Linked DNA regions of Homo sapiens. The protein of the gene in region 3 purifies or fractionates together with the protein of the main gene of each other region. This does not show direct contact. Each region holds a gene or a part of one and is shown on either strand. Other genes may lie near its edges.

The links.
Region 1: the proteins of OGDHL (region 3) and MGME1 purify together in Homo sapiens (co-immunoprecipitation; 2 studies listed by BioGRID and IntAct, with this or other methods). This does not show direct contact.
Region 2: the proteins of OGDHL (region 3) and DLD purify together in Homo sapiens (affinity purification with mass spectrometry; 3 studies listed by BioGRID and IntAct, with this or other methods). This does not show direct contact.

The regions. Positions count from the first base shown.
Region 1 is NC_000020.11:17,971,932-17,979,039, reverse strand, and holds part of MGME1 (mitochondrial genome maintenance exonuclease 1 isoform 2 precursor), read right to left. Parts: intron 6,334-7,108; coding exon of another isoform or gene 6,289-6,333; intron 3,357-6,288; coding exon 3,137-3,356; intron 1-3,136. UniProt on the Homo sapiens protein: Metal-dependent single-stranded DNA (ssDNA) exonuclease involved in mitochondrial genome maintenance. Has preference for 5'-3' exonuclease activity but is also capable of endonuclease activity on linear substrates.
Region 2 is NC_000007.14:107,894,124-107,901,231, forward strand, and holds part of DLD (dihydrolipoyl dehydrogenase, mitochondrial isoform 1 precursor), read left to right. Parts: intron 1-7,108. UniProt on the Homo sapiens protein: Lipoamide dehydrogenase is a component of the glycine cleavage system as well as an E3 component of three alpha-ketoacid dehydrogenase complexes (pyruvate-, alpha-ketoglutarate-, and branched-chain amino acid-dehydrogenase complex).
Region 3 is NC_000010.11:49,738,296-49,745,403, reverse strand, and holds part of OGDHL (2-oxoglutarate dehydrogenase-like, mitochondrial), read left to right. Parts: coding exon 1-60; intron 61-651; coding exon 652-754; intron 755-1,281; coding exon 1,282-1,410; intron 1,411-2,425; coding exon 2,426-2,576; intron 2,577-4,566; coding exon 4,567-4,694; intron 4,695-5,564; coding exon 5,565-5,743; intron 5,744-7,108.

The DNA.
Region 1 (7,108 bases), on a different chromosome or scaffold from region 3:
TTGGGAGGCTGAGGCGGGCAGATCACTCAAGGCCCGGAGCTCGAGACCAGCCTGGGCAACATGTCCAAACCCCATCTCTACTAAAAACACAAAAAATTAGCCAGGCGTGGTGGTGGGTGCCTGTAGTCCTAGCCACTTGGGGAGGCTGACACAGGAGAATTGCTTGAACCCAGGAGGCAGAGGTTGCAGTGAACTGAGATTGGGCCACCACACTCCAGTCTGGGTGACAGAGCAAGACTCTGTCTCAAAAACAAAAACAAAAACAACAAAAAAAAACCGTAGTTTCAAAAATGTTCATATTACCAAGGTTGATGTTGACTTAAAAAGCAAAAAACAAACAACAGTGCTATGGACATATTTTATCATCTCTATGACAAGCATTGGGTGTCAGGAACTTCTTGTAGGCCTTGGGTGGAGGTGACTGTATGGCTTCCTTGGTTTATCTAAAAGGCAACCAAAGTCTATTAAATCTCTTGGTATACAGGGCTCTTCTCAGATATGACGCAGTTGTGCTATAAAACCATTAGGTGGTCTAGGCCAGGCGCGGTGGCTCACGTCTGTAATCTCAGCACTTTGGGAGGCTGAGGTGGGTGGATCACCTGAGGTCAGGAGTTCGAGACCAGCCTGGCCAACATGGCGAAACCCCATCTCTACTAATAACACAAAAATTAGCCGGGTGTGGTGGCGTGCACCTCTAATCCCAGCTACTTGGGAGGCTGAGGCAGGAGAATCGCTTGAACCCAGGAGGCAGAGGTTACAGTGAGCCAAGATCACGCCATTGCACTCCAACCTGGGCAACAAGAGTGAAACTCCGTCTCAAAAATAAATAAATAAAAAATAAAACCATTAGGTGGTCTAAACAGTTTTCAGACTATCAAGGGTGCCCACTCTTTCGGCTTCCTGGCCCACATTGGAAGAATTGTCTTGGGCCACACAATAGCTGATGAACTAAAAATAAATAAATAAATAACCAAAAAAAAATCTCATAATGTTTTAAGAAAGTTTACGAATTTGTATTGGGCTGTGGAATAGACAAGCTTTTAAACTTAAATTTTAACTAGAGCTTCAAGGTTTACATGAACGGATTTTTCTATCTTGTTCTTAGTGATCGCTTGCCTTATTTGGATTAGGGGTACCTGCAGGTTGTAGCCACCTTTGTATCAGAGGCGTTCGAACGAGAGCAACTCCATCTTGAGTGAGGGCTAGGAAAGTGAGGCTGGGCCTTGCTGGGCTGCATTCCCAGAAAGTCAGGCATTCATAGCCTCTAGATGTTTAAGGTTAAGGGAACAAATTAATAATGTTTACTAAACAGACCCAGACTTGGGAGTGTCCAGATACCCTGATATCTGGAGAACGAAGGCATTCCTAATTTTGCTTTAAAGATAGTATCGATTCTTGCAAAATATAATAATTAAGAAAATTAATCCTTTATCACAAACCCTTGCAGTAGAGCACATCTCCCCAAGATCTCTTTTTTTATCTTATATATATGAGCACTGTACTTAGGGTGGAAGTGTTCCTCCTCTTACTTTCAGGAACGCCCTGCTCTGTCTATGGAGTAGCTATACTTCCACTACTTTACTTTATTAATAAACCTGCTTTTACTTTGCACTGCAGACTCATCCTGAATGCTTTTTCTTTTCTTTCTTTTATTTTTTTTTTTTTGAGACAGAGTCTCACCTGTTGCTCAGGCTGGAGTGCAGTGGCACCATCTCGGTTCACTGCAACTTCTGCCTCCCGGGTTAAAGTGATTCTCCTGCCTCAGACTCCCGAGTAGCTGGGACTATAGGCACACACCACTGCGCCTGGCTAATTTTTGTATTTTTAGTAGAGACGGAGTTTTGCCATGTTGGCTAGGCTGGTCTTGAACTCCTGACCTCAGGTGATCTGCCCACCTCGGCCTCCCAAAGTGCTGGGATTACAGGCGTGAGCCACTGTGCCTGCCTTCAACCTAAATTCTTTCTTGCCCGAGATCGAAGAACCCTCTCGGGGTCTGGATCAGGACCCCTTTCCTGTAACACTTGGACTCTGAAGTACCTGAGTAAAACAGTAAGACAGCTACGATATAAAAACCATGGGGACCGGGCGTGGTGGCTCATGCCTACAATCCTAGCACTTTGGGAGGCTGAGGCAGGCGGATCACCTGAGGTCCGAAGTTCGAGACCAGCCTGACCAACATGGAGAAACCCCATCTCTACTAAAAATACAAAATCAGCCACACATGGTGGCGCATGCCTGTAATCCCAGCTACTTGGGAGGCTGAGGCAAGATAATAGCTTGAACCTAGGAGATGGAGGTTGCAGTGAGCTGAAATCGCACCACTGCACTCCAGCCTGGGCAACAAGAGCAAAACTCCGTCTCAAAAAACAAAACGAAACAAAACAAAACAAAACAACCATGGGAAGCTTTAGTAAGTTCAGATCTCTGATCCATGTCAAGCACTGCCTGGAAGCCAGGAAGAGTTGATTTTCAGAACCAACAGATCATGGTGCTATCTTTAGAAAAACAGGAAAGAAAACGCAGGAATGAAATTGGATCTTATGGCAGGTACCTTGCTTTGGGGGAGGGGAAGGACAGGCTGGCAAACAGGCCATGTTAGGGAGATTGAAAAATCTCGGCCAGGTGCAGTGGCTCACGCCTGTAATCCCAGCACTTTGGGAAACCAAGGTGGATGGATCACTTGAGGTCGGGAGTTTGAGACCAGCCTGGCCAACATGGTGAAACCCTGTCTCTACTAAAAATACAAAAATTAGCCAGGTGCGGTGGTGCATGCCTGTAGTCCCAGCTACTCAGGAGGCTGAGGCAGGAGAACCGCTTGAACCTGGGAGACGGAGGTTGCAGTGAGCCAAGATTGCACCACTGCACTCCAGCTTGGGTGACACTCCGTCTCAAAACAAAACAAACAAACAAAGAATATACCTTTCTCCAGCAAACAATTTGATTTTGGAGTACTGGATGACAAAGGTTACGTGGCTCTTCTCCTTGTACCTGTTCTCAACCCCGCCCCACCCAATTCTTTTACCTAGCACAAAGGTCTGGACATTAAACAGACAGAGGCTACAGTACCTACAGGCACACCTTTGACAGGCACCATCTGTCCTACGCTGTATTAATTCACCTCCAATCTCATACTTACTGATACTCAGCCACACAGTCCAGCAGACCTATATAGTTTAAGGTTTCATGTTGAACAGCACTTTCAAGAGCTCGCACTCCACTGACATCTTTCAGAATATGCTGGACACTTTCAATGTAACCAGACTTGAGGAGATTTTCATCTCTCTCTTTTAAGGTTTCCTGGGGTGAAAGTATGCTTTCCAAGGCTTCGTGGAACCGTTTCCCTTGTAAAAAGACGTCTGAAAAGAAAATCAGGGAAAAGGGGAGGGGGGAAACACAAACAAAGCTAACACTGAAAAACAAATACTCTAAAACGCCCTGAAACAATACAATTAAAAATGACATTTTTTTTTCTTTTTTTTTTTTTTGGATGGAGTCTCCCTCTGTCGCCCAGGCTGGAGTGTAGTGGGCGATATTGGCTCACTGCAACCTCTGCCTCCTGGGGTCAAGTGATTCTCCTGCCTCAGCCTCCTGAGTAGCTGGGATTACAGGCGCCCGCCACCGTGCCTGGCTAATTTTTCTACTTTTAGTAGAGATGGGGTTTCACCATATTGGTGAGGCTGGTCTCGAACTCCTGACCTCGTGATCTGCCAGCCTTGGCCTCCCAAAGTGCTGAGACTACAGGCATGAGCCACCGTGCCCGGCCAAAAATTACATTAGTTATTTTTAAGTGACAACCCCTAAGACCAAATTTCAGCCTCTTGTGAAACCTAAGAATATACTTTGAAACCAACGGGATTATTAATAGGACGTTAGGTAATAAAATGAATTAAAATTAAGTACTTCTAGGAGAATTGGGCCAAAGTCAAAACTGAAGATCTGGCGGCTACAAGACCACATCCAGTTTATGGTACTATGTGTTTAAGTATCCAATGTAATAAGTTAACTGGCTGTGATAAAATAAAAAAAAATTAGAAATCTAGGGAACTGTGCTTCTGTTTGTAGTTCTTTTTAGACCAAAACTTAATTATGAACATAGGTGGGGGAATCCTTTTACTAACAGGATTAGTGACAAACAAGGAATGGAAAATAAGGCATGCGCAAATGAAAAGTTATGAATTTGATATTATGGAATCTGGAGGGGGAGGAAGAGGAAAATATGTGACATTCTTCTCCTGTATTTTTTTTTTAGTGCTGGAACAGCCTGAAAAATTCAGCTGTGTCTCAATTTTTTTCCCTCATACATTTTTCTATTCTAATATTTAATATTTAACATGTAATATTTTTCTAATTAGCTTTAGATTATTAGAATTCTGATTTATGGCTTGTAGGAGGACACATCTTCTTTCTTCCTAACATTTTATAACATGTGAATACTAGAGAAATTTCATTAGGACACATTAGGACACATTATTTTTCCTGTATGTTCATTTTCTGAGGTCAAAGCCTTACTTTTCGTCCCCAGGTTTCTCCGAAAGAACTGTAGTGTCTGGATTTGTTGGCGTATCCCAGGATCTAACTTGATTTTTGAACTCTCTCCTCATTTTCAGTGCTCGTTGGCCTCCAAGCGCTTGCATAGTAAGCCCCCTCCTCATACACATTTTAAAAAAGGGAACATGGCCGGGCATGGTGGCTTATGCCTATAATCCCAGCACTTTGGGCAGCCAAGGCAGGCGGATTACCTGAGGTCAGGAGTTCAAGACCAGCCTGGCCAACATGGTAAAACCCAGTCTCTACTCAAAATACAAAAATTAGCCAGGTGTGGTGGCGCATGCCTGTAATTCCAGCTACTCTGGAGGCTGAGGCAGGAGAATTGCTTGAACCCAGGAGGCAGAGGTTGCAGTGAGCCAAGATCATGCCACTGCACTCCAGCCTGGGTGACAGAGCAAGACAATCTCAAAAAAAAAAAAAAAAAAAAAAACACACAAAGAGACTCAACAAACACAAGAAATATATTCACTTGTTTCTTAGTAAGAGGAGAGAAAGAGGGGGGACTGTTATGCTAAGCAATGGCCTTGGAGCTTTCAAAACATTATTTAATTTTCAAACCCAACAACCCAGCAAAATAGGGATTGTAAGTTACCCCCATTTTAATGAATGAGGCCCTATCCCACCAGGCAGTGCTGTTAATTTGCCCCAAAGCAAAAAGCTGGACAGGCAGCCTGGCACCAGAATCTGTTTCCAATCTACCACACAGTAGAGCAAAGGAAGCAATCTTGGAAATCACCAATTAGATACTCAGAGAAACAGAGCAGGAAATACACGTGCTTGGAACATGCTTGCAGAGAGACCCACAGAAAAGGCGGAAAACAACTTTACATTTGTCAAGTTTTTTTTTTTTTGAGACAGGGTCTTACTTGTCACCCAGGATGGAGTGTACTGGCTCGATCATTGCTCACTGTAACCTTGAACACCTGGCCTTAAGCAATCCTCCTGTCTCAGCTTCCTCTACAGGCATGTGCCACCACGCCTGGCTAATTCAAAAAAATTTTTTTTTTGTAGAGATGCAATCTCTCTACGTTGCCTAGGCTGGTCTTAAACACCTGGCCTCAAGCAATCGTCCCACCTTGGTCTCCCAGAGTGCTGGGATTACAGGCATGAGCCACTGCACTCGGCCTTCAACTATTTTTTACAAAGATGGAAATGTCAATTCTTTTTTTTTCCAGGCTGGAGTGCAGTGGTATGATCTCGGCTCACTGCAATCTCCACCTCCCAGGTTCAAGCGATTCTCCTGCCTCAGCCTCCGTAGTAGCTGGGATTACAAGTGATCGCTGCGCCCGGCTAATTTTTTTGTATTTTTAGTAGAGATGGGGTTTCGCCATTTTGGCCAGGCTGGTTTTGAACTCCTGACCTCAAGTGATCCGCCTGCTTCGGCCTCCCAAAGTGCTAGGATTACAGGCATGAGCCACTATGCCCAGCTGGAAATGTCAATTCTATCATTAGCAAAAAATGGAATCCCTTCTGAAAAATTATTTGGAGAGTTAAATGAAATTCAACTTAGGAACTAAGTTATTCTACTCCAAATTTACTTGACTCAATTGGAATTATTAACACGTGAAAGACCTACAAGAAATTTATGACTGATGGAATTAAAGCCTAGGAAAAAGAAGTGTATAGCATTCATCTACACACTAGGTTAATGAAGCAGAAGACAAACATGTTAAAAACAGGAAGAAAAAAACTTAGCAAATGCCATGCCAATAGACCATACATTTCTCGCTGCAAACTTACCCCTGGCTAGGTTCTTCATATACACATGATCACAAACATGAAAACCTAGATTACAGGATCCTTTAGACACTAAGGCTCAGAACATTCAACATGATTCAATTTATAAAAATAAAAAATGATCCAAGAATATTCACTGCATGTAGCATCAAGTCTGCTTATTCACTCAAAGTAATGAAAGTGAAATGTTTTCAAGTCCTCGTATATGAAGTGCACTAAAAAAAACCTTCATGCATCTCCAGTATTCTCATGATGGAACTGGCAGGATGGCTAATACTTCAGGATTAAATCAGCGTAGCAAAAAAAAAAAAAAAAAAATTAAAACCTAAACCCCATCCCTTTGTGTGTATTTATACACAAAATATAAATCAGAATAAGTCAGACTTTCTCATTCCCACCAGTCTTCAAAAGATGAACTGATGCTTGGGAAACTGCTCAAGTATTTGGAAGAATGCCAGACACATTTCTATGCTCTCACCTTTGAGAAGACTGGGTAGAAATTACTGATCCAATATTTTTCATTAAAAAAATCTTCTTAATTTTTAAAATGTAATTCTTCTTGGGTGCCACCTTCTTGGGTTTGGGATCCAGTATCCTCCAGACCCGTTAATCAATTTAGTGAGCCCTTTTTCTTTTATTCACCATGACACTAATTGTCCCTTTATTTATTTCAGAACCCACTGCTTACTAATACTTATTTTCTAAAAAGAGTGATTCTGCCTGGGCACAGTGGGTCACACCTGTAGTCTCAGTATTCTGGGAGGCCGAGGTGGGAGCACCACTTGAAGACAGGAGTTGGAGACTAGCCTGGGCAACATAGGGA
Region 2 (7,108 bases), on a different chromosome or scaffold from region 3:
TTTTATTTTTTTAAGTATTTAAAACAGAAAGTTAATAGGATTATATTGAAGTATTTTGACCTGTCAGTACCAAGGATATTGATTATTTGCAATGTACTGTTTTGACATTTACTGAATTCACCCATATGGATTATAAGTAACATTGGATGTCTTAAAGCTTCAGTTATAGAAATCATTATCTGGGCAAACTGTGACTATCAGTCTCCCTGCATTCTGTGAAGTAATTTAATCCTGTATCCTCAACTGTTATCCAACCATTATCATTTTGGATATTTTATTTCTAGAGGAAGGGTAGGGGGAGGATTCTAGTAACCCATGACTAACAGTGAGTGAGTGATTTATTCTAGCTTTGAACAGGTCAAGAAATCCTTTTAAAAAAATGCTAATATGATGATGAAGGGAAAAGTTGGACCTCTTATACACTTTGTCTCTTGTTAAATAGGAATCTCATTCTTCTCAACTCATATAACAGGAGAAATGTTAGATTTTCATTTCTAAAGGATATTTTTCATGGCTAACTCTATACCTTTGGCATCACTCAGCAGAGATTATTCAGTGCCTTCTATTTGCCAGGCAGACCCTGAGCCAGAACTTAGATTTTAGTGGAATGAGGCTGAGTGTTCCATAATCAGTTTGGTGATCCCTTGACATTGAGTAAATCATAAATCACTTAGTACCCATGTGTGTAAAGTGTGTAAAAGCTTTGAGTGGATGCAGTAACAAGCATTTTACACACATACTTGTATTTTATCTGAGGTACATGCTTACTGTCTTTTCCTCAGGAATGCAAACTTCATCAGGACAGGGACTGTGTGTGACTGTTTTGTTTAGTATCTAAAGTGATACAGTAGGTAATCAGTACATATTTATTGAATGAATGAACACTGGGGCCTGGTCTGTTTTAATTACTGCTCTGTGGCAAAGCATCCAGTATGGTGTCTTGTACAAAGTAAGTAACCAGCTACAACAGCAATAATATTAACTGATGCATTGAGGGCTTCACTCTGTCTCAGGCACAGATTTAATCCTCATGGCCTTTCTACTACCTGTGTGCTGCTGTTCTCCCCATTTTATAGATGGAAGAGTTAGGTTTTTTAACTAGGAAATGACAGAGCTGGGAGAATCCTTTTGACTTCAGAGCCTACACTGTTAATGTTTTATTGAGTTTTCTTCCTTACATGAGTATTGATTGACTCTCCTGAGGAGTTCAAATCTTATTATGATATAGTCTTGGTTACAACATCTGAGAGATGTCTGAATAGCCTTATGAACCAGGTTCATCAGAATTTGCAAAGTTGTGTGTGTTACTGTTGATGTGACGTTTTATTTCATGACAGCACTTAATCAAACTTGTAACACTTAAACTTACAGCACTTATATCACTCACATTCACTACATTCATTCATTCTTTTATTATTTCGACAAATACTAATATCTACTATGTGTTAGTCATTGGGCTAACTACTGGAGTACCGCAGTGAGCAAGACGGACAAGACCCAGCTTTTATAGAGCTTACAATTCAGTTGAGGGAGACAAACATCCAACATATAATTGTGACAGGGGTCCATAGACTTAAGCATAGGGAGTAATGACATCTATATATGGATTGGGAATGGTCACATAATTCTTTCCTAAGGAATTATGTTGATAGCTAAAAAGGTTGAGAGTAACTCTCGTTACAGGTTGGACCTTTTACTGTAATTCTTTTTTTTATTTAGACTGTAAGAAATAGGGCTATGTCATTTATATATACACACACACAGACACAGCATGTGCAGACACACCCCTCCAAGAGCCTAAAGTAGTGTTTGTAATGTGAAATGCCTGCTGTTAGTGTTTATTTCTAGGTAGATGGAACAGATCGTACATAGGTAGACCAGCATAATTCTATGCATGTAGGCTAAGAGTAGTAATTCACCGTTACTGAAGCTTAAACTGCATGGTATTGGTGAGTAAACAGAACGTGGTAGGAGATGAGGCTGGAGAAATAGTTACTGAAGGAATTTGGATGCTGTACTTAGGAACATGGGCTTTATCTAACAAGACACTGGAGAACCAACAGAGCGTAACAACAGAGAGAATAACATCTGAGTTGGGTTTTAGCTTTGCGGTAGCACTGGGTAGGCTAAAATGGAGGATGTGAATGAGGCTAGAGGCTGCTGGACTGAAGTTTGGAGGTGGATCTGAGAAGGGGAGTGACACTGAGTTGCTAGTATGCACCTAGCACCTCCTTAGGATCTTAACATGCGTACTCTCTGATCCTCACAACCCTAGGCTGCAGGTGTCATCCTTACTATTACCCCCATGTTGTATCAAAGCCCAGAGAGATTGAGTAATTTGCCCAAGAACTTAACGGGGTTAGAGTTTGGAACCCAGGTCTGTTTTACTTCAGATCATTTCTTATTTTACTATATTTCTTCTTTAGGGACCAGGAGGTTATGACTAGAAAGTAGAGTATTGATTTCAGAGGCTGAACAGTTTTGGGTGATAACAAGTATAGAGTGTTAACTATGGGAGGAGGTTACTGAAAAAGACTGGATATTAAGGCCATTGACAATGTAAAAACAACTTCCCTTACCCCTCAACAAAATGTCAACAAATAAACCTTATCAAGTAGTTCTTACATTCAGTAAATTTGGTAATTAATGATTATTGCCTTATGACATCTCTTTTCCTGTTCGTTTTTTCTTTTTAAAAATCTGGTTTTGTTTTTGTTTGTTTTTTTTTTTGAGACAAAGTCTCGCTCTTGTCCCCTAGGCTGGAGTGCAGTGGCGTGATCTTGGCTCACTGCAACTCCACCTCCCGGGTTCAAGTGATTCTCCTGCCTCAGCCTCCCGAGTAGCTGGGATTACAGGTGCCTGCCACCAGCCCGGCTAATTTTTGTATTTTTAGTAGAGATGGGGTTTCACCATGTTGGCCATGCTGGTCTCGAACTCCTGACCTCAGGGGATCCACCCACCTCGGCCTCCCAAAGTGTTGGAATTACAGGCATGAGCCACCGCGCCTGGCCAAAAATCTGATTTTACCTTTATTTTGACATGTGCCTCTTTTTTCTCACTGTGTTTTAAGGTTATTGAAGGTACTGATGAGTCATAAATATTTGATTTCATTCTGTAAAGCATATTCTTGTCATTTTAGTTGAAGTTCTTGATTGTCCTGGAGATTATGGGATCATCTGAGTGTTTTGGAAGGCAATAGAACATAATGGTATATAGGAGCACACATTTCAGAATCTAGAGGACCTTGTTTGAATCCTGGCTAGATTACTTACTAGTTGTGTAGCCTTATGCAAATTATTTAGTTGTTTTCAACCTTTTCTTCCTCTGTTAATGGTAGTATTAAACTATGTCATAGAAATGTAATGAGGCTTACATAAGACAGTACACGTGACTGGCTCACTAACTGGCACATTTTAAGCTACCCAAGTGGTAGGTATTATTGTAGACTGACTTTTTTTTTTTTTTTTTTTTTTGAAACTTGGTCTCACTCTATCATGCAAGCTGGGGTGCAATGGTGCGATCTTGGTTCACTGCAACTTCCACCTCCCGGGTTCAGGAGATTCTCATGCCTCAGCCTCCTGAGTAGCTGGGACTACAGGCACGCACCACTATGCCCAGCTAATTTTTGTATTTTTAGTAGAGATAGGGTTTCACCATGTTGGCCTGGCTGGTCTTGAACTCCTGACCTCAAGTGATCCACCCGCATTGGCCTCCCAAAGTGCTGGGATTACACAGACTGACTTCTTGAGATACATCTTGTAATTATATTGATGATTACAATTGATTTGTAACACAATACCTTTATTTCAGTGGTAGCCTGGATAACCAGGTGCCTTATTTTCCTTATAATGATCTAATATGTAACACTTGTAGGAATTTGTAGAGTACTTTTCTTGACTTTTTTCTTTGAGTTAATTTTAATAACATTAATTGCCTTGTTTAAGTCAGTCACCTCTTATTGTACTCCAGTATTTTTAAAGTATCAACCTGATACTTTAAACCTGGTAGGAGCACACATTTCAGAATCTAAAGGACCTTGTTTGAATCACTTCACTGAAACACAGATTGCTATTCACCTGTCATTTGCCACTTTTCCATCAGGTTTGCCTTAAATAAATGTATTTCATTTAACTACTTTTCTGTATCCTTTTTTTTTTTTTTTTTTTTTTTTGAGACAGAGTTTAGCTCTTGTTGCCCAGGCTGGAGTAGTTCAGTGACACGATTTCAGTTCACTGCGACGTCCCCCTCCTGGGTTCAAGCGATTCTCCTGCCTCAGCCTCCCGAGTAGCTGGGGTTACAGGTGCTTGCCACCACGCCTGGCAATATTTTGTATTTTTAGTAGAGACAGGGTTTCACCATGTTAGTCAGGCTGGTCTCAAACTCCTGACCTCAGGTGATCCACCTGCCTCGGCCTCCCAAAGTGCTGGAATTACAGGTGGGAGCCACCACACCTGGCCTGTATCCTGATTTTTTAACTTTTTTTTTGAGACAGAGTCTTGCACTGTCGCCCAGGCTGGAGTGCAGTGGCGTGATCTCGGCTCACTGCAAGCTCTGCCTCCTGGGTTCACGCCATTCTCCTGCCTCAGCCTCCCCAGCAGCTGGGACTACAGGTGCCTGCCACCACGCCCGGCTAATTTTTTTTGTATTTTTAGTAGAGACGGGGTTTGGTCTTGATCTCCTGACCTCGTGATCCGCCTGCCTCGGCCTCCCAAAGTGCTGAGGATTACAGGTGTGAGCCACCACACCCGGCCCTGATTTTTTAACTTTATGTATGGGACTCAACCTGTGAAATTATTCTTGACAAGGAGAGGGTGAGTCAGAATCATGTGTTATCAGCTTTCATTTATATGCATCCTTTGGTACAGGTGAGAGGTAGATGATTTGTTTTTCTGACATTTTATTATGAAAAATTATAAGCATTTAGAAAATTATAAGAATTTTACATTGAACACCCATAGTTTTCTTCCATTAACATTTTCTGTGCTTACAGTACCACATATGTGCTCATTCGTTTATCCATCAGTGCAGACGTGTGTATACTTCCCCTAAATACTGGTTTGTTTTTGAAAGTTTGTTCCTGGCTTATACCCTCCTGTATTCTCAGTTGACAGATCTTTACATAAAGAGTCTGCTTTTTTCTCATTTTTGTGCATCTTAGCACTTTAGTGGTATTGTAATGGAATATTACATCTAGTATGTACAGTGAGAGAGGAGCTCTTGAATTTTTGGTATTTTCTGAAGTTTAAAAAAAAACACCTAAGATTACATAGTGAATAGGGAAGTAAAACCCAAGGTTTTTGGCTATTATCTTTTATCTCTTGTTTACTTCTCCTGACCTTACTAAAACAAGTTCTTTTCCAAACCAAATTTATTTATCATTTTAGTACCATGGACCTACTATAAGAATTGTTACATATCAGTGATTAAAAGTATATGCTCAAAAATACATATACTTAAAATCTAAAATATTTAATTCAGTTTTATTGTCATTAAAAGGGTTTTTGGAGAATTATAGCAGTAATATATGTTATAAATATATATGCTCATGTAAGAGTGAGAAAAGAATATAAAATATGGCAAAAATTGAATTTTATAAAAACTTTCCTAGAAGAAGGATTGGGAGGACCTATAAACAGTTCTCTCTGGGCTGTATGGCAATGTGGATGGGTTGTTTTTTTTTTAATTTTGCTTTAGTGTATTTAAATTTATTCAGTAAACCTAAATTTTTAATCAGAAAAGACATTAAAAATTCAGCAAAGAAACCTGTTTTGTAGCTTGTATTTACATTACTCTGAAATTAAAAATTAGAACCCATTTAAGGGATGTTGTGTAGATCGTCATTTGGTTCAAGATTTGAAAATAAAAATACATTTTATTAGATACTTAATTCTGAACCGAAATCAGTGAACCAAGCAGGGTGGCTAAAAAGCACAGATGGATCAGTAAAAATTGAAGCAATTTTTCATGTATTGAAATGACTATACATATTTTTTCATGTATTATCTCAATTATCATCTGCTATAACCAAAGAGAATCTAGTATTTTCATTTATTCAACAGGAGGGATTCTTAGATTTTGTGGATAATTGGGCTGAGTAACTTAGTTATCCACCAACACAGAGGTTCTGTGATTCTGTTCAGGCCAGCAAAGGTTTTTTGAATGATCCTACTCTAGGGATGTGTGTTTTTGGGGAGAGGGGGTGATGCAAATTAAAATAGTCTTCTTTGTAGGTCAGAATATAGCTACTATGTATAGAATACTTATTATGTATGCTATAGGTACTATGCTAAATTATTTACATACATTATTTTATTCTGTTATCACCCTATGAAGTAGGTTTTTTTTGTGGTCTTTCTTTTGCCAGGTATGGAAACAAAGATGAAGCAGGTTAAATTACTCACCTAAGGTCACATAGGTAGTGATTATAAAGCTTGATTATTGCTCTCTGGAATTTTAGTTTATGATGGTTAAAACTGAGGAATGGAATAGTATTGAATAATGGAAAGACCACCGGAAGTAGAGTCAAAAAGCTTAGTTTGTCTCTGCAACTCACTTGCTGGTTAACCTTAGACAAGTTAATTGACCTCTCTGAACTTCTTGTTTATTCTGTGAAATGTCTTATTTATGACATCTTTATCTTCCTCATAGGAAATTCTGAGACTCAAACATGATAATATATGTGAATATGTGTTATGAATTGCTAAATGCTAGACTAGTTGGGGTTGTCAGGACAGTGGAAGGGGAAGAAAAGGGAGACTGTTTCCTAACTCTTAACAGTCACTGTTACTTTATTTGAAGTTGGATTGAGAAGAATGGGAGTAATTGGACTTACTTGCACATTTGTATTACAATTGTTAAACTCCTAAGGATACTGATCAAAATTAATTTTCAATTTTTTATCTTTATTTGAAAAATGGCCACAATAGTTAATTGAATATTCTGGTTAGCCTATTATCTTAAGGTATGTAAAAATTATCAATATGCAAGTACAAAACATATTTGTTAAATATTACATAGAAGCTGTTTTTTCCCTCATATTTCAGAAGTTAAGGACCTGAAAAAGGTAATAGGTCTTAAATTTATTGGAAATACTAAAGCATTATATAAA
Region 3 (7,108 bases):
CTGAAGAAGTACGCAGACAAGCTGATTGCCGAGGGCACAGTCACCCTGCAGGAGTTTGAGGTGGGCAGGCAGGCTGCAGGGGCGCCCAAGACAAACTTTGGGTGGGGACCCTGGAGAGGGGTTGTAGATGTTACCAGCCCAGTGCTGGGCACTAAGGATTTAAAGAAGTAGCCACTATGGTCCTTGTCCCCAAGAGGCCCCAGTTACCAAAGGGGACCAAGAACTAAGGATGCAGTTACAGCCAAGTGGGACACAGTGGGTACTGCAATGTGGGGGAAGTCCAGCCTTGAGCAGGAGTGCGGGAAGGCTTCCTGTAGGAGGCAGCCCTGAGCTGGGGTTGTCCCCATAATTATCTATGGAGTGTTCGTCCTTCCACCTTCATGGAGCTCTGAGGGCAAGGACTACAAGTTTCCAGAGCCTTCTCCAAGCCCCTTGCTGAGCGCACTGCAGGCCTGCCCAGCCTCGGGGTACCTGTACAGGATCCCCTGAACTCTGAGACTTTGGCTTCTAGCCATGAGGTCCCTATAGGCCAGAGACAGAGAGTTCTAGAAGAACTTGGTGATGGGGACCAGGACTTACGAGTCCAAGTGGACTGGGCGTCTGGCTGCGCAGGGCTTTGGTGCTCTGTCCACATCTTCATCCTGATTCCAGGAAGAAATTGCCAAATACGACCGGATCTGTGAGGAGGCTTATGGCAGGTCCAAGGATAAAAAGATTCTGCATATAAAGCACTGGTTGGACTCCCCCTGGCCTGGTGAGCGAGCAGTGTGTGGCTCAGAGGGACTCCCCTGGGCCTTGAGGTCTTGCACTGGGATCAGGACTGGAATGGCCCTGGGTGACAGCTGTCATTGCCTAGTCTAGAGGCTGCAGGCTCTATCACTGAGTCCCCAAAGCTGCGTGGGGCCGATTCCTGCAAGTCAAGGATAGCATTGCCCTCTGAGCATGGATGGCCAGGTGCTCACTGAAAAGGGAGGGCATAGCCAGGTGGGAGAGGAAGCCCTGGGCACTGGATGCTTGGGGCCAGGGTGCTCAGAGGGCCTCCCTGGGGGGCAGGGTTAGAAGAGCTGTTACCCTGGGGCCCAGAGGTGGGTGTTGGGCCTGTGGGGGAGTTGCAGCTGTGGCTGTCCAGCTGTCCCAGGTCCCAAGGGTGGGCTCAGGGTGAGTCCGAGTGCCGGTGGAGTTTGGGAAGCCATGGGCCACTCAGTCCTGGGGAGGCAGGCTGGCCAGGGGGATCAGAACCCACCACTGACACAGTGTGGACAGAGCCTCTCTCCCTCTCAGGCTTCTTCAACGTAGATGGGGAGCCCAAGAGCATGACATGCCCAGCCACGGGGATCCCTGAGGACATGCTCACCCACATCGGCAGTGTGGCCAGCTCTGTGCCCCTGGAGGACTTTAAGATCCACACTGGTGAGGTTGCTGGACAGGCTGCAGCCCAGGCTGCTGGCCCCACCCCAACACTGTGCCTCGAAGGGAGATTGGTTGGGATGCAAGAGAGATGGTGTGTCGCATTCCTGCTCAGTCTGTAGTGGGTCCACGTAGCTCTCGGCACCATGTCTGTGCCCGTGACAGTAGCTCTTTTCAGGGTGGGCGTGGCGAGCTGGGCAGCTCCAGATGCCACACTCCCAGCTGGGTACCAGTGACTAGTCTTAGGTTGGGGACCTTGGATTTTCCAAATGCCTTTGCCGGGGCGTCCCTGGGTCAGGCAGAAGAGCAGGAAAGCAAGGGCTCCCATACAGGGGCTGGAACGCAGCCTGGAACGTGGGCAGAATTCTGCAGCTGAAAGGACGGTGGCTTGCCGGGGCCTGGACCAATGACCGAGGGCAGCCCCCCCACTCCGGGGTGAGACTAGAATGTGGGTGGTCACCGACTGCATCCCTTGGCTGGGGCCACTGTGACCTTTGCCTGGGAAGTCCGGAGGGTCCCCTGTGGCTGTATTGGGGTGCCTACACACCCTCTGACCCACCTGGGGGAGTTCTGAGGGGGTTCCCTTACAGTGTGCACCGAGACCGAATGTCCTGGGGCAGCTGCTGACAGCGTTTGGGGCATGTGCCCGCTCTGTTTGTGTGTTAGCCTCTGTGTGTGGGGCTGACAGGAGCACAGCATAAGCCTGGGGACTTGGAGTCAAATCCGTGTACCTTGACAGCTGTGTGATCTGAGTAAATGACTCTGAGCCTGACGGTGTCTGCAACGTGGCCAATGCTTGCCAAGTGGTACCTGCTCCACCCCTCCACAGGCTCGGGGTAGCCCCTTGTCTCAGCTGGAGGAGGGGTGCCTGGCCCTGGGCCCTCCTGCAGCATCCCTGCCCTCCAACCAAATCAACAGATGGCTGCCCTGCTTTGTGCGGGGTGTGTGCTGAGCACCTACCTACCCGCCCCAGGGCTGGCTGTCCCTTGGCCCTCAGGCCAGCACTCCTTTCCCACAGGCCTCTCTCGCATTCTGCGGGGCCGTGCGGACATGACCAAGAACCGGACGGTGGACTGGGCGTTGGCAGAGTACATGGCCTTTGGCTCCCTGCTGAAGGAAGGCATCCACGTGCGGCTCAGCGGGCAGGATGTGGAGAGGGGCACATTCAGGTGAGCGCAGTGGGGCTCAGCATCCGCACAGGAGACCTGGAGCAGAAGCTGGGCCTGGCTTGGGGATCCCGAGGGGGCCTTTGTTGGGGTGGGATCTTCACAGCATCCCTAGCCCCTGCCCTCAGGTGGCATCATCAGATGGCCACCTCGCTGACCCCCCAGGGCAAGTGTGCAGAGCTCACTGCTGGGCCCAAGCTGTCCACTAAGGTCAAGCTGGTGGCCATCTGTGGTCCTCAGGATCATGTGTGTGTGGGGGGTGTGTGGTGAGTGTGGGCGAGTTGTGTGTGGTGTGTGTGTGTGGTGTGTTTGGTGTGTATGTGGTGTGTGGTATGTGGTGAGTGGGGGGAGTGTATAGGGGGTGTGTGTGGTGCGTGTGTGTGGTGTGTTTGTTGTATGTGTGGTGTGTATGTGTGTATGGTGTGTGTGGTGTGTGTGGGGGTGTGGTGTGTATTTGTGGGTGTGTGGTGTGTTGTGTGGTGCATGTGTGGTGTGTGTCGTGTGTGGTGTTTGTGGTGGGTGTGGTGCATTTGTGGTGTGTGTGGTGTGTGTTGTGTGTTGAGTGTGTATGGGGTATGTGTGGTGTATGTGTGGTGTGTGCGTGTGTGGTTTGTGGGGGTGTGCGTATGTGTGTGGGGTGTGTATAGTGTGTGTGGGGCGTGTATGGTGTGTGTGATGTGTGTGTATGTTTGGTGTGTGTGTAGGGTGTGTATGTGTGTAATGTGTGTGAGGGTGTTTGTGTGGTATGTGTGGGGTGTGTGGTGTGTAGTGTGGTGTGCGTGTGATATGTGTGGTATGTGTCATGTTTGGTGCATGTGTGGTGTGGTATTTGTGGGGTGTGTGTGGTTGTGTGTGTGTAGTGTATGTAGTGTGTGTGGTGTGTGTGATTGTGTTTGTGGTGTGTAGTCTGTGTGGTGTGTGTGTTGTGTGGTATGTGTGGTGTGTGTGGTATGTGTGGTGTGTGTAGTGTGTGTGGTGTTTGGTGTGTGTGCATGGATGTGTGTGGTGTATATGTGTGTGGTGTGTTTTGCATGTATGTGTGGTATGTGTGATGTGTGTGTATGTGGTGTTTGGTGTGTGTGGTGTGTGTATGTATGTGTGTGGTGTGTGTGTATGTATGTGTTTGGTGTGTGGGGATGTGTATGTGTGTGTGGTATGTGTGGCATGTGTATGTATGTGTGTGGTGTGTGTGTGTACTGCTGTTAAGTCAGCCCCTATCTTGCTTGTTTGCAGTTGTCTTTGTGAATCCAAATGGGGACTTGACACTTGTCAGTTGTCCACACCACATTTCCTCTGGTTCGGGTTCCTAAAATGTTCTAGATCCTGCCTCAGTCCGCTCCTGGTTAGCAAGCCAGGGTGGTGTGGCTTCCAGGACTTGACCAGCTGGCTTTCTCATTCCTGGTTGCTTATCTCGGCTGGTCTTGCTCCAGCCAGGGCCCAGGTGGCCCTCTGATGCACCCAGAGCTACCTGTCAGTCCTTGCCAGGGACTGGGGTTCAGCCAGGCGCCCCTCACTTACTGTGCCCACCTCGGCTACTGCACGGTGGTTTCTGCCTCTTGTGAGTTGGGACAGGGCTGGTGAGATGGTAAAGAAGCCAGCAAGACGGGGCAGGGGAAGTGGCCTCCTAGGGTCTCTGGCTCTAGCTGGCACCTGGGAAGTGTCTTATCAGGTCCCCTTTATGGGTGAAAAGCTGACATTCAGAGAGGTGCCACAACTCACAGCTCCTTCCCCCAGACCCCCCAGTGCGTGGTGTGTGGGCGCTGCTAGCAGGCAGGGGGCAGGCTGGGGAGGCCTGGTGGGGGACAGGCTGCAGGAGGGACCACATGGCTCTGGTTTTCCACAGCCTTCTTGGATGCCATGTTGTGGGACCCTGCAGGTTTCCTGGGACAGTGACGGAGGCTTGCCTGCCTCCTGCTGCCCAGCTCCCCTGCTCCAGGTGAACAGGTGCCAGCCCACCTGCCCTCTGTCCCTGCCCCGGTCTGTGTCTCTGCAGTCACCGGCACCATGTTCTCCATGACCAGGAGGTTGACCGCAGGACGTGTGTGCCTATGAATCATCTCTGGCCTGACCAGGCCCCGTACACCGTGTGCAACAGCTCCCTCTCGGAGTACGGAGTCCTGGGTGGGTCCACGCTCTCCTGCAGGCCAGGCAGGCCCCAGACACCTGGGGACAAGAGATGGGCTGGGAAGGGACCGGGGCCAGGGCCTGGGAGGGGCGAGAGATGCTCAGAGGCCCTTAGGGGATGGCCCTGGGGGATGGTGATTGGGCTGCCCTCACCTAAGGCCATGTGGGAGGTGAAATCGTGTCCCATCTGGGCCCCTTGGGGATCCCAGTTGGGGGGACCTCCTTGCCTTGAGGGGTTTTGTGGGTATCAGGGCCCCAGTGGGCGCAGACAGAGAGCCCAACACAGTCTGCTGTGGGTTCCAGCTGCTGAGCAGTCCAGTCTTGGCCCAGCCCTCTCACATTCCTTTGAGCCCCATCTTGCCTCCTCTGCCCTGCACCCTAGGAACACTGCACTGAGATCCCTTCTCTGGGCTCTGGGCTTCCCTGCCTGTGTCCCCTGTGCATGCTCTCCCTCAGATGCATCATTAGCTGGCTCACCTCGTCCTCACTGCCTGCCCCTAGAGGCCAGGCAGCCCCCCGCCCCCAGGCAGATGCCTCTAGGGCTGTTTCTGCCCCTTCTCCTTAGCAGCTCTGCATGTTTTTAAGGAGTTCTTGACAGATGGTCCCTGTTGCCTCCCCAGGATACCTAAATAAGGTTGAACCTGACCACACATGATAGCAGGGCTGAGGGTAGCATCTCTGAGCATGTTGTCAGCCCCCAGGATGGTACATTGTACCCTTTGAATCCCAGGGAATCCCTGGGTTCGTCCTGGCTTGTGAGAAGGATGGGTGGGGGCATGGAGGATATACTGAGAAAGGCTAAATTTGACTGGAGCCACTGCCACTTGGTGACTGTGTGCAGCAAGCTCTATCTTGTCTTCTGTTTAGGCTTTGAGCTGGGCTATGCCATGGCCAGCCCCAATGCCCTGGTCCTCTGGGAGGCCCAGTTTGGGGACTTCCACAACACGGCCCAGTGCATCATCGACCAGTTCATCAGCACCGGCCAGGCCAAGTGGGTGCGGCATAATGGCATTGTGCTGCTGCTGCCCCATGGCATGGAAGGCATGGTGAGGGCTGCGGTGGTGGCTGGTGGCTTGGTGGGTTCTGGCGGGCCTTGAAGGGGCGGGATGGACCCTGGGCCCCTTGTCGGGTTGGACGGTATATGCCTTCCAGGCCCCTGGAGCACGTGGGTCTGTGCAGGGTGGGGTCTGCACATGTGCATGCTGCAGCTGCTGAGACGATGATGCTACCCCTGGCAGCAGAAGGCGCTACCACGTATGAGTGCTTGCTGTGCGCCAGGCACTGTTCAATGCTTCTGAATGTTAACTCTTCCAATCCATACAACTTAATGAAGTAGGCTGTGTTCCTGCTTTTCAGATGAGGAAACAGAGGCACAGAGCTGGGGAGTAGGTTGCCCAAGGTTTCACAGCTAGTAGCTGGGGTTTGAAGCTATCCTGTGCAGTACTGCCTGTTCTCTGGTCCCCTCCTGTATGACCTGCCTCTGCAGCCACACATGGGGCAGAGGGAAGACATGCAGGCTGGGTGCATCCTCCGGAGGCTCCTGGGCTAGCAGGAAGGGAGGAAGGAGCAGGGTGTCATGTGATACCATCTGGTGGGCAGGTGGCCTGACCAGGCAGAAGGGAGACAGGCAGGGGGCTCATTGCCACCATTATCCCTGAGTGGCATGTTATGAGCACTTTACAGGCTGCATACTCGGCATCCTCACAACACCGGGTATCAGTGAGGAGGGAGGTGAGGCTCCCTGCTTGGGGCTGCCTGCCGTGAAGGCAGCTTCTTGGGAGGCCAGATCTGGGCCAGGCTGGGTGTGGGGGGCTGGGTCCTTGGCCGTCCCCACCAAGAGAGGGCAAGTGGCAGCTGTGCAGTGGGTCATCCCCGTCCTGCAGGAGCTGGCTTGGAGATGCCCCTGGGCTTGTCTTGCTGCTTTCATGGAGCAGAGCGGTCCGTGTGGGTGAGGGTGGGCGAGGCCCAGGCCGAGTTGGGTTGGCCCCTGCCTGGCTGTGTGGTCATGGGTGGTTTCTTACCCTCTCCTTGCCTCTTCATCTGTGCAGTGGGGAAGAGTGTCTGCATCATGGGGCTACTTTGGGGGTTAGCGATAAGGCGTGTGGGATTCCTAGAACTCTGCCTCCTGTACAGCAGGTGCTCAGTCAGTGGCAGCCACTGTTCCAGGACATTCCAGAGAAAGCACGTCTCAGTGCGGGCTTTTTGCTTTTTCTTCTGTCCCTGCAAGTTCACATACTGTGCTAGCTCTGGGCAGACCCCACTCTGAGGATTCCCATTCTGCTCTTGTTCCACATTCTTGGTTCTTTTCTATGGTTCAGGCTCCAGGGTGAGGGCACCTCTGCTGAGAAGCCCTCCAGACTTTCCCCTGAGCCTGGGGTCCCTGCAGGGCCAGATGTCTTTCCCATGGTGGG